Regions from separate parts of the Homo sapiens genome. Here region 2 is linked to region 1. Evidence: fine-mapped expression QTL. Tissue or cell type: thyroid. Region 1 holds a variant in brackets; the other region holds the start of a gene. All regions are shown on one strand. Distances are from middle to middle. Region 1 holds the start of LOC124904606 (a long non-coding RNA gene). Region 2 holds the start of C2CD4C (C2 calcium dependent domain containing 4C).

Region 1 (5,365 bases):
AGATGTAGGAGGTGGAGCAGAACCGTGGTGATGAGCAGATGTAGGAGGTGGAGCAGAACCGTGGTGATGAGCAGATGTAGGAGGTGGAGCAGAATCGTGGTGATGAGCAGATGTAGGAGGTGGAGCAGAACCGTGGTGATTGATGAGCAGATGTAGGAGGTGGAGCAGAACCGTGGTGATGAGCAGATGTAGGAGGTGGAGCAGAACCGTGGTGATGAGCAGATGTAGGAGGTGGGGCAGAACCGTGGTGATGAGCTGATGTAGGAGGTGGAGCAGAACCGTGGTGATTCATAAGCAGATGTATTAGGTGTTGCTGTTGCTGGGGCTGTGGCAGGAAGTGGTTGATCACATTCCTATTCTCCAGTTGGGTAATGAGCTCATGGTTGAATCGTGAATGGGTAAATGAATGGGTGGATGGAAATAATTATGGTTCACCTAATTTTATGCCCCTAAGGTCCTTGCAAAAGAAAACGGAGGGAGGAGAGAGAGGAGAAAGGGGAAGAAGTCGCATTCAAATTCACTCTCGCCAGTCTCTAAAATGGCAGATTCGTTTTGAAACAACTCCAGATTAAGCCTACAGAGGGAAGGCATGGCTGATTCTGCTGAGCACCTATTACAGCTTCAGCAGCATACCTCGTTTCGGTCCACAACAGCTGTGTAAGATTGTGACGGAGCTGGAAAGTTCCTGTTGCCTAGTGAGGTCATGTCCTAGCGCAGAACGCAGAATCACGAAGAGTGACGAATGCCCGCCGTCAACTGCTGGCCGGGCTGCGTGTCATGCAGCAACGCACAACGGAAGCACACCCTTCTCCTGTTCCCAGTGGTCAGAGCCACCCAAGTCGGGGGTGTGGGCCCCCAGCACTTCTACTTCAGGATGGAGACCCCCTGCTGCCTGGCTCCCTCCCCAGGCCCGCCAGGCTAGTCCCCTCCCCTGTCCCTCTCTCAGGCCTGCTCTCATAGCCACGCGGGCCTTTCTGCTGCACACGCCAGCTCAGTTCGGGGCTCAGTAACCCCCTCCCAATTCAGGGGCATGACTCCTTCCAGATTCTCCTTAAATATCACCTCCTCCAAAAAGCCTTCCCCAATCACCTCGTCTAAAGTAGGGCCCCCTCATTTTTCTACCTAAATCTATGGGGAGTTTGTTTGCTTAGTTGCATGTATCATGATCTTGCTTTGTGTTGACTTTTTACATATTTATTGTCTTTTTATCTCATTAGCATATGTGCTCCAATAGGGTGGAGACTGTGATTTATCTTGTTCATGCCTGGACTTCCAGCAGCATTCAGAACAGAACTTCTTTCTTTCTTTCTTTCTTTTGAGATGGAGTTTCGCTCGTGTTGCCCAGGCTGGAGTGCAGTGGTGCGACCTCGGCTCGCCGCAACCTCCGCCTCTTGGGTTCAAGCATTTCTCCTACTTCAGCCTCCGGAGTAGCTGGGATTACAGGCGCGCGCCACCACGCCTGGCTAATTGTATTTTTAGTAGAGTTGGGGTTTCTCCGTGTTGGTCAGGCTGGTCTCGAACTCCCGTCCTCAAGTGATCCGCCCGCCTCGGCCTCCCAAAGTGCAGAAGAGAATTCCAGGAAGCCTCGAGAGTGAGTGACGGCCCGCGGCCCCCGGCGAGGAGGCAGCAATACCACAGGCGACCACCAGCTGCCGCCGCAGTCAAGGGCAGTTGGTCTCCCCTCGCCAGGATTAACCCTGGACCGAGGGCTCCCGAACCGAATCGTCCCCACAGCCTGTCCTGCGAGGGCGGCTTTCCCCATTACCACCCTCGTTTCACCAAGGAGAAAACGAGCTCAGAGAGGCAGTGCATTGGCCCGGGATTGCACCGGGCGCGAACCCACGTCAGCTCCCGCAGAACCTAGATCATTCGCTGCCACCTCCCTCCGGGCCTGCTCTCGCAGTGTTGGGTGGGAACAGAACAGCCTTGGTCGTGGCTGAGGAGAAATCCCACAGATGTCACTGGACGAGGGTGACGGGTGGGGCCGGGCTTTCCCCTGGGTACAGGCACAACCGTGCTCTTCCCTCGCACAGTGACCCGCGGTGTCATCCACAATTCACAGCCTGTTTCCCAGAGGAGGGGCTCGGAGCGGTGCCCTCCAGGTGCCGCCAGCAACACAAGGCCCAGACTACAGAACACCAAATACTGTGATGAGAAATTACTTCCCTTTTCCTTCAGGGCCAGTCCTGGCTACCCCAAGGGGAAAGTCGCAGCTTGGTGCAAATGAAAGTTCAACTGTCCCCAGCATTGTCAATGGTTTTTACAGAGAGAGAGCAGGCCCAAGCCTGGGGCAGAGCATAGGAGCTGGTTAGTAACCTTGTTTTGTTCTCACTGCTGTTTGTTTGCATGCCTTTCTGGCTTTGTTTGTGTTGTTGTTTTGAAATAATTGCGAACTTTCAAGAAAAGTAGTATCATTTTGAAAGAAAGCTCCCTGGAACTGATGAAGTGGGAGGGAGGTGGGGGCAGAAGGCGCCTGGTGAGCTGTGACTGAGAGGGAGGTGGGGGCAGAAGGCGCCTGGTGAGCTGTGACCGGGAGGGAGGTGGGGGCAGAAGGCGCCTGGTGAGCTGTGACTGGGAGGGAGGTGGGGGCAGAAGGCGCCTGGTGAGCTGTGACTGGGAGGGAGGTGGGGGCAGAAGGTTTCTTTGTGTCACTGAGGTCACGTCGGCAAACATAGTTATCGTTATCCTCCTATTTGCCTAGGGAAAGCACCAGGATGTTTAATGCCT[A/G]CAGTCCAAAATTGGTTGGTGGAAGTACCTACTGTCAGTCCCATCAGTAGATTCACTTATCACATGGTAAGCGGGATGTCACTCAGGCCACGGGTAAATTATTTACAAGACTTTTCTTATCAAAGATCATTAAAATTTAGACCTATAGGGAAACCTTGCCCCAAGGAAATTCCCAAAGGATCAAAAAATACAGAAGTTTTAGTTTGGAAAGAATGTGTGGCCAATAGTGCGGTGATATTACAAAACAATGAATTCGGAACTATTATAGATTGGGCACCTCGAGTCAATTCTACCACAGTTGCTCAGGACAAACTCGGTCGTGTCCAAGTGCACAAGTGAGTCCAGCTGTTGATAGCGACTTAACAGAAACTCTAGACAAACATAAGCATAAAAAATTACAGTCTTTCTACCCTTGGGTATGGGGAGAAAAAGGAATCTCTACCCCAAGACCAAAAATAATAAGTCCTGTTTCTGGTCCTGAACATCCAGAATTATGGAGGCTTACTGTGGCCTCACACCACATTAGAATTTGGTCTGGAAATCAAACTTTAGAAACAAGAGATTGTAAGCCATTTTATACTATCCACCTAAATTCCAGTCCAACGGTTCCTTTACAAAGTTGCGTAAAGCCCCCCCTTATATGCTAGTTGTAGGAAATATAGTTATTAAACCAGACTCTCAAACTATAACCTGTGAAAACTGCAGATTGTTTACTTGCATTGATTTGACTTTTAATTGGCAACACCGTATTCTGCTGGGGAGGGCAAGAGAGGGCGTGTGGGTCCCCGTGTCCACGGACTGACCGCAGGAGGCCTTGCCATCCGTCCGTATTTTGACTGAAGTATTAAAAGGCGTTTTAAATAGATCCAAAAGATTCATTTTTACTTTAATTGCAGTGATTATGGGATTAATTGCAGTCACAGCTACGGCTGCTGTAGCAGGAGTTGCATTGCACTCTTCTGTTCAGTCGGTAAACTTTTAATGATTGGCAAAAAAATTCTACAAGATTATGGAATTCACAATCTAGTATTGATCAAAAATTGGCAAATCAAATAATGATCTTAGACAACCTGTCATTTGGATGGGAGACAGGCTCATGAGCTTAGAACATTATTTCCAGTTACAGTGTGACTGGAATACGTCAGACTTTTGTATTACACCCCAAATTTATAATGAGTCTGAGCATCACTAGGACATAGTTAGACGCCATCTACAGGGAAGAGAAGATAATCTCACTTTAGACATTTCCAAATTGAAAGAACAAATTTTCGAAGCATCAAAAGCCCATTTAAATTTGGTGCCAGGAATGGAGGCAATCGCAGGAGTGGCTGATGGCCTCGCAAATCTTAACCCTGTCGCTTGGGTTACGACCATCGGAAGTTCTATGATTATAAATCTCATATTAATCCTTGTGTGCCTGTTTTGTCTGTTGTTAGTCTGCAGGTGTACCCAACAGCTCCGAAGAGACAGCGACCATCGAGAACGGGCCATGATGACGATGGCGGTTTTGTCGAAAAGAAAAGGGGGAAATGTGGGGAAAAGCAAGAGAGATCAGATTGTTACTGTGTCTGTGTAGAAAGAAGTAGACATGGGAGACTCCATTTTGTTCTGTACTAAGAAAAATTCTTCTGCCTTGAGATTCGGTGACCCCACCCCCAACCCCGTGCTCTCTGAAACATGTGCTGTGTCCACTCAGGGTTGAATGGATTAAGGGCGGTGCGAGACGTGCTTTGTTAAACAGATGCTTGAAGGCAGCATGCTCGTTAAGAGTCATCACCACTCCCTAACCTCAAGTACCCAGGGACACAAACACTGCGGAAGGCCGCAGGGTCCTCTGCCTAGGAAAGCCAGGTATTGTCCAAGGTTTCTCCCCATGTGACAGTCTGAAATATGGCCTCGTGGGAACGGAAAGACCTGACCGTCCCCCAGCCCGACACCCGTAAAGGGTCTGTGCTGAGGAGGATTAGTAAAAGGAAGGAATGCCTCTTGCAGTTGAGACAAGAGGAAGGCATCTGTCTCCTGCCCCTCCCTGGGCAATGGAATGTCTCGGTATAAAACCCGATTGTACGTTCCATCTACTGAGATAGGGAAAAACCGCCTTAGGGCTGGAGGTGGGACCTGCGGGCAGCAATACTGCTTTGTAAAGCATTGAGATGTTTATGTGGATGCATATCTAAAAGCACAGCACTTAATCCTTTACCTTGTCTATGATGCAAAGACCTTTGTTCACGTGTTTGTCTGCTGACCCTCTCCCCACTATTGTCTTGTGACCCTGACACATCCCCCTCTTCAAGAAACACGCACGAATGATCAATAAATACTAAGGGAACTCAGAGGCTGGCGGGATCCTCCATATGCTGAACGCTGGTTCCCCGGGTCCCCTTATTTCTTTCTCTATACTTTGTCTCTGTGTCTTTTTCTTTTCCAAGTCTCTTGTTCCACCTAACGAGAAACACCCACAGGTATGGAGGGGCAACCCACCCCTTCACAGGTCAAATTGGCTTTAAGGTCCCAGTAAGAACTCTGTGTGTCCTTCACCTGGTCACCCGCTGTGAACGACCTGCCGCCCTGTGTTATCCTCCTGTCGGTTTTTTCCTGAACATTTGAAGCTAAGTTGTAGATGTCATGCACCTCCACC
Region 2 (5,365 bases), 24 kb after region 1:
TGCAGACGCTGGACAAAAGGGCGACGGGGTGGCAGCCCCCAGCGAGGACGGATGGGCCATAGGGCTGCTCTCTGGGCATCTCTGAGCAAGACCCTCCGGCGCCACAGCAGAAATGGCCAGACGGGCCTGTACCCAAAAAGCCAGCGGCGACAGTGTTGGAGGAAAACAGGCCAGGAGAGCCGTCTCCTCCCCGCGGACCTCTGCCAAGACCTCCTCTGCTCCGACTGTGGCAGCGGCTGCTCCCTCCGCGCCCACCCTCGTCAGGGCACCCTCGCCTGGCCCCACTCCCCACCGGAGCCTGGGAAGCTGGGGTCTCCCAGAGCCAAGCCTGACCCCTGGGAGGGGGCGTCCCGGGCAGAGCCTGGGCCTGGTGTGGCCGCGAGGCCCTGCTCTCCGCGGGGTGGGAACTGGATGGCGGCAGGCTGTGGGGGAGGAAGACACACGTGCAGTGAAGGAGACTGTGGGCTCCAAGACTTGTCACCTCCCTGTCCACGGCCCCGCCCTGGCCACATGCACGGATTCCTGAACCCCTGAGAACCTCCTTCTAGAACTCTGCGTGAAAGGCGCGAGGCAGTGTGGAGGGGCAAAGGGGGACCCTCTGCCCCGCGAAGTGGCCCCTTCTCTTCCCCCGAGGCCCCTCTCCTCCTCCTCCTCCTCCTCCAAAGGAGAAATTAATTCATGAAAAATAATACTCCAGTCAGCATCGGGTGACCCAGGAAACCCTGCGTCAGCTACAGCATCAGCGCCCAGCCCAGCCTGAGTGTGAGCCCCTCCCCGGCCAGCCCCAGCCCAAGCCAGCGGACCCGCCCGCCAGCACCCGGTGTGGAGGAGAGACCGGGGTCTGCCCTCTGCACCCGAGCGGACAGCGAGCAGGTCCCCGCTCTACAGGAAGGGGAGCAGGGAGGTCAGGGGCAGCTCCTTCTCCCCGAGCAGCGTGTCCCGCTTGAGGCTGCTGCCCTTGTTCACCACCTTGATCCTGAGGGCCAGTTTCCGGACGCTGGCGGGCCCCAGGCCGTCGAAGAAGAAATCCTCGTTGAAGACGGGGCGGCGGCTGTTCTTCACGATGGTGCTGCGCTGCTTCTGCAGCTTGCCCGGCACCAGGCACAGGCCCACGCAGCAGTTGATGCTGCGGGCGTCGCACAGGCGGTCGTAGAGGCCCTCGGCGGCCAGCAGGTGCACCCGCAGGCGGGCCTGGCCGGCCTCGTACTCGGCCAGCAGCCGCACGCTGCCCCGAGGGCCCACGTGGACCGTGTGCTCCCCACGCGCCTGGCCCGACTCGGGGCCAGGTTCCGGGGGTGCCCGGCGGGTCAGGCGGCGCCGGCTCCCGGGGCTGGCGTCCGGGGTGCTGTCGTCCGCAGACAGGGAGCCGTGGCGGCCCACGGAGTGCCGGAGCTGGCTCACCTTGGCCTGGCTGTCCTGGGCGAAACCTTTGAGCAGAGACACGGAGCGGGACAGCAGAGGGGACCCGAAGGGGGAGGACTCGGCCGAGGACCCTGTGTCGCTCTCCCCGCCACTGAAGTAGCGGCCGGGGCTCATGAGGGCCCCGCCAGCCTCCCTGGGGCCCCCATCACCCCCGTTGGCCTTGGCAGCTGCCCGGCGGCGCCCGGCCCCTGGGGAGCCCACCTGGGCCAGAGCCCCGTGCTCACTGTGGAACAGAGACTCCTTGCGCCTCGTGTGGGGGCTCTCAGCCAGCATGGCGAAGCCGTAGGACGTCTGGGCCTTGGGCACCGAGGGCAGGGACATGGCACCCTGGGCCTGGGGGTCGGCGTCAGTGGCCTCCTCGGACAGCCAGTCCTCGGCACTCTCGATCTGGATCACGTGCCGGGTGGCTGCCTTCAGCAGGCTCTTGCTCTCGGCTGCCAGCTTGGCAGGCAGCCGGGGGCTCCGTGGGGTCTGGCGGGGGGCCGCAGAGGCCAGGTTCTGTTCCGACGTGGAGGGGCCCAGCGCGGCCTGTCCCTCGCCCTCCGCGGGGCCCGAGGGCAGCTTGGGGGGGATGAAAAAGTCGGGGATCTTGTCGGGCGTCAACACATTGCTGTACAGGGGCCCCTTGGAGGCCTTGTCCCCCGCCTCACTCCCCACGCCCCGGGCAGCACCGTTTTCCCCAGACCCCCGAAGCCGCTCCAAGAACCACATGTTGGTTTTTCTCATGGGGGCGGCAGGCAAGAGGCCCGGACAGGGGCTGCAGCGTCTGGGAAGAGAAGCAGGGGTCAGGAGCAGTGGGGGGCGGCTGGCAGAGGGCCCTGGGCACCTGCTCCCTGTGGGGCCTCCCGGCAGGGCCCTGCCGGCGGGGTGGGGGTGGAGGGGTCCCCTGGGGGCGTCCCGCCCAGGCGCGGCGGCCCAGGACAGGAGTGAGGCGGGTTCCCCCCACCTTTTTCCGGAGAGATCCCGCTTAACTTCCCAGCACCAAGCCCAGGGGCGTGGGGGCCGCGCTCTGACTCTCCGGGGAGCTCCCAGAGGAGACTGGCCCCTCGCCCGCCCCCACTCTGGTTTTGAGCATCTCAGCGCTCATTCCAAAGGGTTCCGCGCTCAGTCCCAGGGGAAGACACGGATGTGGGTGGACCCCCGGGGTGTCCCAGCTCCGCCCCCCCGGCTCCCACCCACCTGTGGCTCCTCCCTGGACCGGAGGGCCAGGCGTTCGGGGTGGGGGAAGGGAGGGGCGGTAGGTCTGGGGCCGAGAGAGCAGCGAGTCGACTCCCCGGTGTCCCCCCGCCCCCAGCCCTCCCCGACTCCGCTTGGGGTGGGGGGTGGGGTCCCGGCGGTCCCCGCAGACCGGGCGGGGTCCCCGGACTTACCTGCCCGGGGTGATGGCCCGAGGCCGGAGGTCTGTTCGCAGACACGCAGGGGTCTCGGCGCGCAGGCTCCCGGGGCTGGCGCGGGGGACGCGGCCGGAGCTTCGATGCGGGCGGCGGCGGCGGCGGCAGCGCAGTCGGACTCATTCACCCGCGGCGGGAAACCGCCCAGCCCCGCCGCCGCCGCCGCCGTATTCCTCCGAGTACGGCCGCCCGCGCCCGCGCCCGCGCCCCCGCCCCCGCGGGAAGGGGGTGGGGCCGTCTCCCCGCAGCCCCCGGAGGCTGGTGGCAGGGAGGAGCCTCGCCAGGGCCCGGGGGCTGACTGGGGGCCGGTGGGAGACAAGCAGGTGGTCACGGTTGGCTGACGGCCACCCCCGGCGCTCACGCCCGCAGATTCCGGGAAGTCGGACTCCCAAGCCCCTGCCTCCGTATACCGGAAGAGGGTCCCAGACCCCCTACTCGCTGCCGGCGAGGAGCTTTCCCGACTAACGACGACGAATTAAATGACGGCAACAGTAATAAATGCAGCTGGGTTTATGATGGAGCGTTTCCTCCCTGCCAGCCTCCCAGCGTCCTGGCGGGTCTCTGACTCTCACACAACCCAGTACGCAGGTCCTACTGCAATTCTCAATCTGTAGATGAGGAAGGTGGGGGGTTTCCTTCCAGAAACAAGGACCGAACAGCTAGGACAGCAGGTCTTACTAAATGGGCAACCTCTCAGCAGCCCTACAAGAAGCCTGGAAGGGGGGGGCTCCTTCATTTCATGGACAAACGTTTCCTGAGCACCCGCTTGATGCTGGACAGTGACCTGGCCACCGGGGACACAGCTGGGACGGAGGGAGGTGGCCCCAGCCCTGGTGATGCAGGGGCAGGATGCCCACAGAGCGTACAGGTGCAGCTTAGAACTGCAGGGGTGGTGACGCCCGGAACAGGAATACAGCAGGAAAGCGTGAGGGTCGGGGCGAAGAGAGAAGGCACATGCGTGTGATTCACGGATGGAGAAACCCATAGGGGGCAAGACCAGGTCCAAACCCAGGCTTCCTGGCAGTTCCTGAGACCACAGGGTCCCCCCCTCCTGAGGCCCCGACCCCCCTCCTGCCAGCTGCTTCGTGATCTGCCAGCCCCGGCCTTCACTGCTTCCTTCTCTCCCTCCCTCCCTGCCCTCCCCGCCTCAGTTTCCTCTTCTGGAACCGAGCTGAGCAGTTCCCAGCCTCCTCGTGCTTGGAGCCAGCAAGATAACATATCCCCAGGACCAACCCGGAGCCGGCGGACGCCTGGCGCTTTATTGAATTATTGATTGTCCAGGAGCCTCCTGCATTCTGGGAATGTCCCCAAGTCTGGATGTGGCCCAAGCTGGGAGGAGCGGCTGCTGCCACAGTGGTAGAAGAGGGGTCCAGGAGGGCGAGAGAGCTGGGCTGAGGCCTCCCCACTCTCCACGTACCCTTGCAATAAGGGGTTAGAGTCCTGCCGTCCAGAGGGGAAAGTGAAACCCGGAGGAGCTGTGACCCCATCTAAGCTTTGCTCACCCAGCAAACGTTGATGAGCCCTCATTTTTGTGCTGGGGCAACCGCGACGCAGCCCCGAAGTCTGACAAGGAGGCAGACACCGAGGAATTCTCCCCTTCACCGCCGCCGCCTCCAGGAAGCCTGGGCAGGCCCCACCACAGACTAGCAGGGCCCCCGAACCCCAGCTCCAGCTGCCATGCAGAATACCCTTGGGCTGCTGTCCACCACCCCTGCTGGGCCTGAGGCGGGAGGAGGGTCCTGGGGGTCTGTCCACTGCCCCTGCTGGGCCCGGATCCTGGGGATCTGTCCACCGCCCCTGCTGGGCACGGATCCTGGGGGTCTGTCCACCGTCACTGCTGGGCCCGGATCCTGGGGGTCTGTCCACCGCCCCTGCTGGGCCCGGATCCTGGGGGTCTGTCCACCGCCCCTGCTGGGCCCGGATCCTGGGGGTCTGTCCACCGCCCCTGCTGGGCCCGGATCCTGGGGGTCTGTCCACCGCCCCTGCTGGGCCCGGATCCTGGGGGTCTGTCCACCGCCCCTGCTGGGCCCGGATCCTGGGGGTCTGTCCACCGCCCCTGCTGGGCACGGATCCTGGGGGTCTGTCCACCGCCCCTGCTGGGCCCGGATCCTGGGGGTCTGTCCACCGCCCCTGCTGGGCCCGGATCCTGGGGGTCTGTCCACCGCCCCTGCTGGGCCCGGATCCTGGGGGTCTGTCCACCGTCTCTGCTGGGCCCGGATCCTGGGGGTCTGTCCACCGCCCCTGCTGGGCCCGGATCCTGGGGGTCTGTCCACCGTCTCTGCTGGGCCCGGATCCTGGGGGTCTGTCCACCGTCTCTGCTGGGCCCGAGCCGGGAGGAGGGTCCTGGAGGTCCTGTCCCTGTAGTGGCCCCAAGGCACAGGCCAGCCATGTCTCCAGTAAACATTTGCCAAACAAATGGGTGAATAGCATCGCCACGATGGCCCCGAAACAGTGCTCTTTCAGCAGGCCCGAGGAGAGGGGGCCTCAGGGGCCACAGAGCCACCCTCCTCCATTGCAGACAAGGACAGCAGGGCCTGGGGAGGGAAGCGGAC

The links. PIP is the estimated chance that this variant, and not a neighbour inherited with it, causes the effect. A credible set is the group of variants that fine-mapping cannot tell apart.
Region 2: it holds the start of C2CD4C, and the variant in region 1 is the best candidate, but not a certain one, in a credible set for the expression of C2CD4C in thyroid (GTEx, PIP 0.54).

Annotation. Positions count from the first base shown.
Region 1 is chr19:382,423-387,787 of GRCh38, forward strand. LOC124904606 (a long non-coding RNA gene) reads left to right here and starts at 128. Exons shown (of 3, transcript XR_007067071.1): 1 at 128-159; 2 at 196-2,307; 3 at 2,702-4,259. RefSeq lists enhancers at 311-410, 571-640, 1,386-1,912, 1,721-1,920, 1,913-2,439 and 4 more. The variant A/G (reference allele first, on the strand shown) is at 2,728.
Region 2 is chr19:406,214-411,578 of GRCh38, forward strand. C2CD4C (C2 calcium dependent domain containing 4C) reads right to left here and starts at 2,934. Exons shown (of 2, transcript NM_001136263.2): 1 at 2,793-2,934; 2 at 1-2,188. The coding sequence starts at 2,148. The coding sequence ends at 883. It overlaps LOC124904607 (proline-rich proteoglycan 2-like), which reads right to left. Exons shown (of 2, transcript XM_047439790.1): 2 at 3,309-5,347. The coding sequence starts at 5,243. The coding sequence ends at 4,080. RefSeq lists enhancers at 1-796, 797-1,677.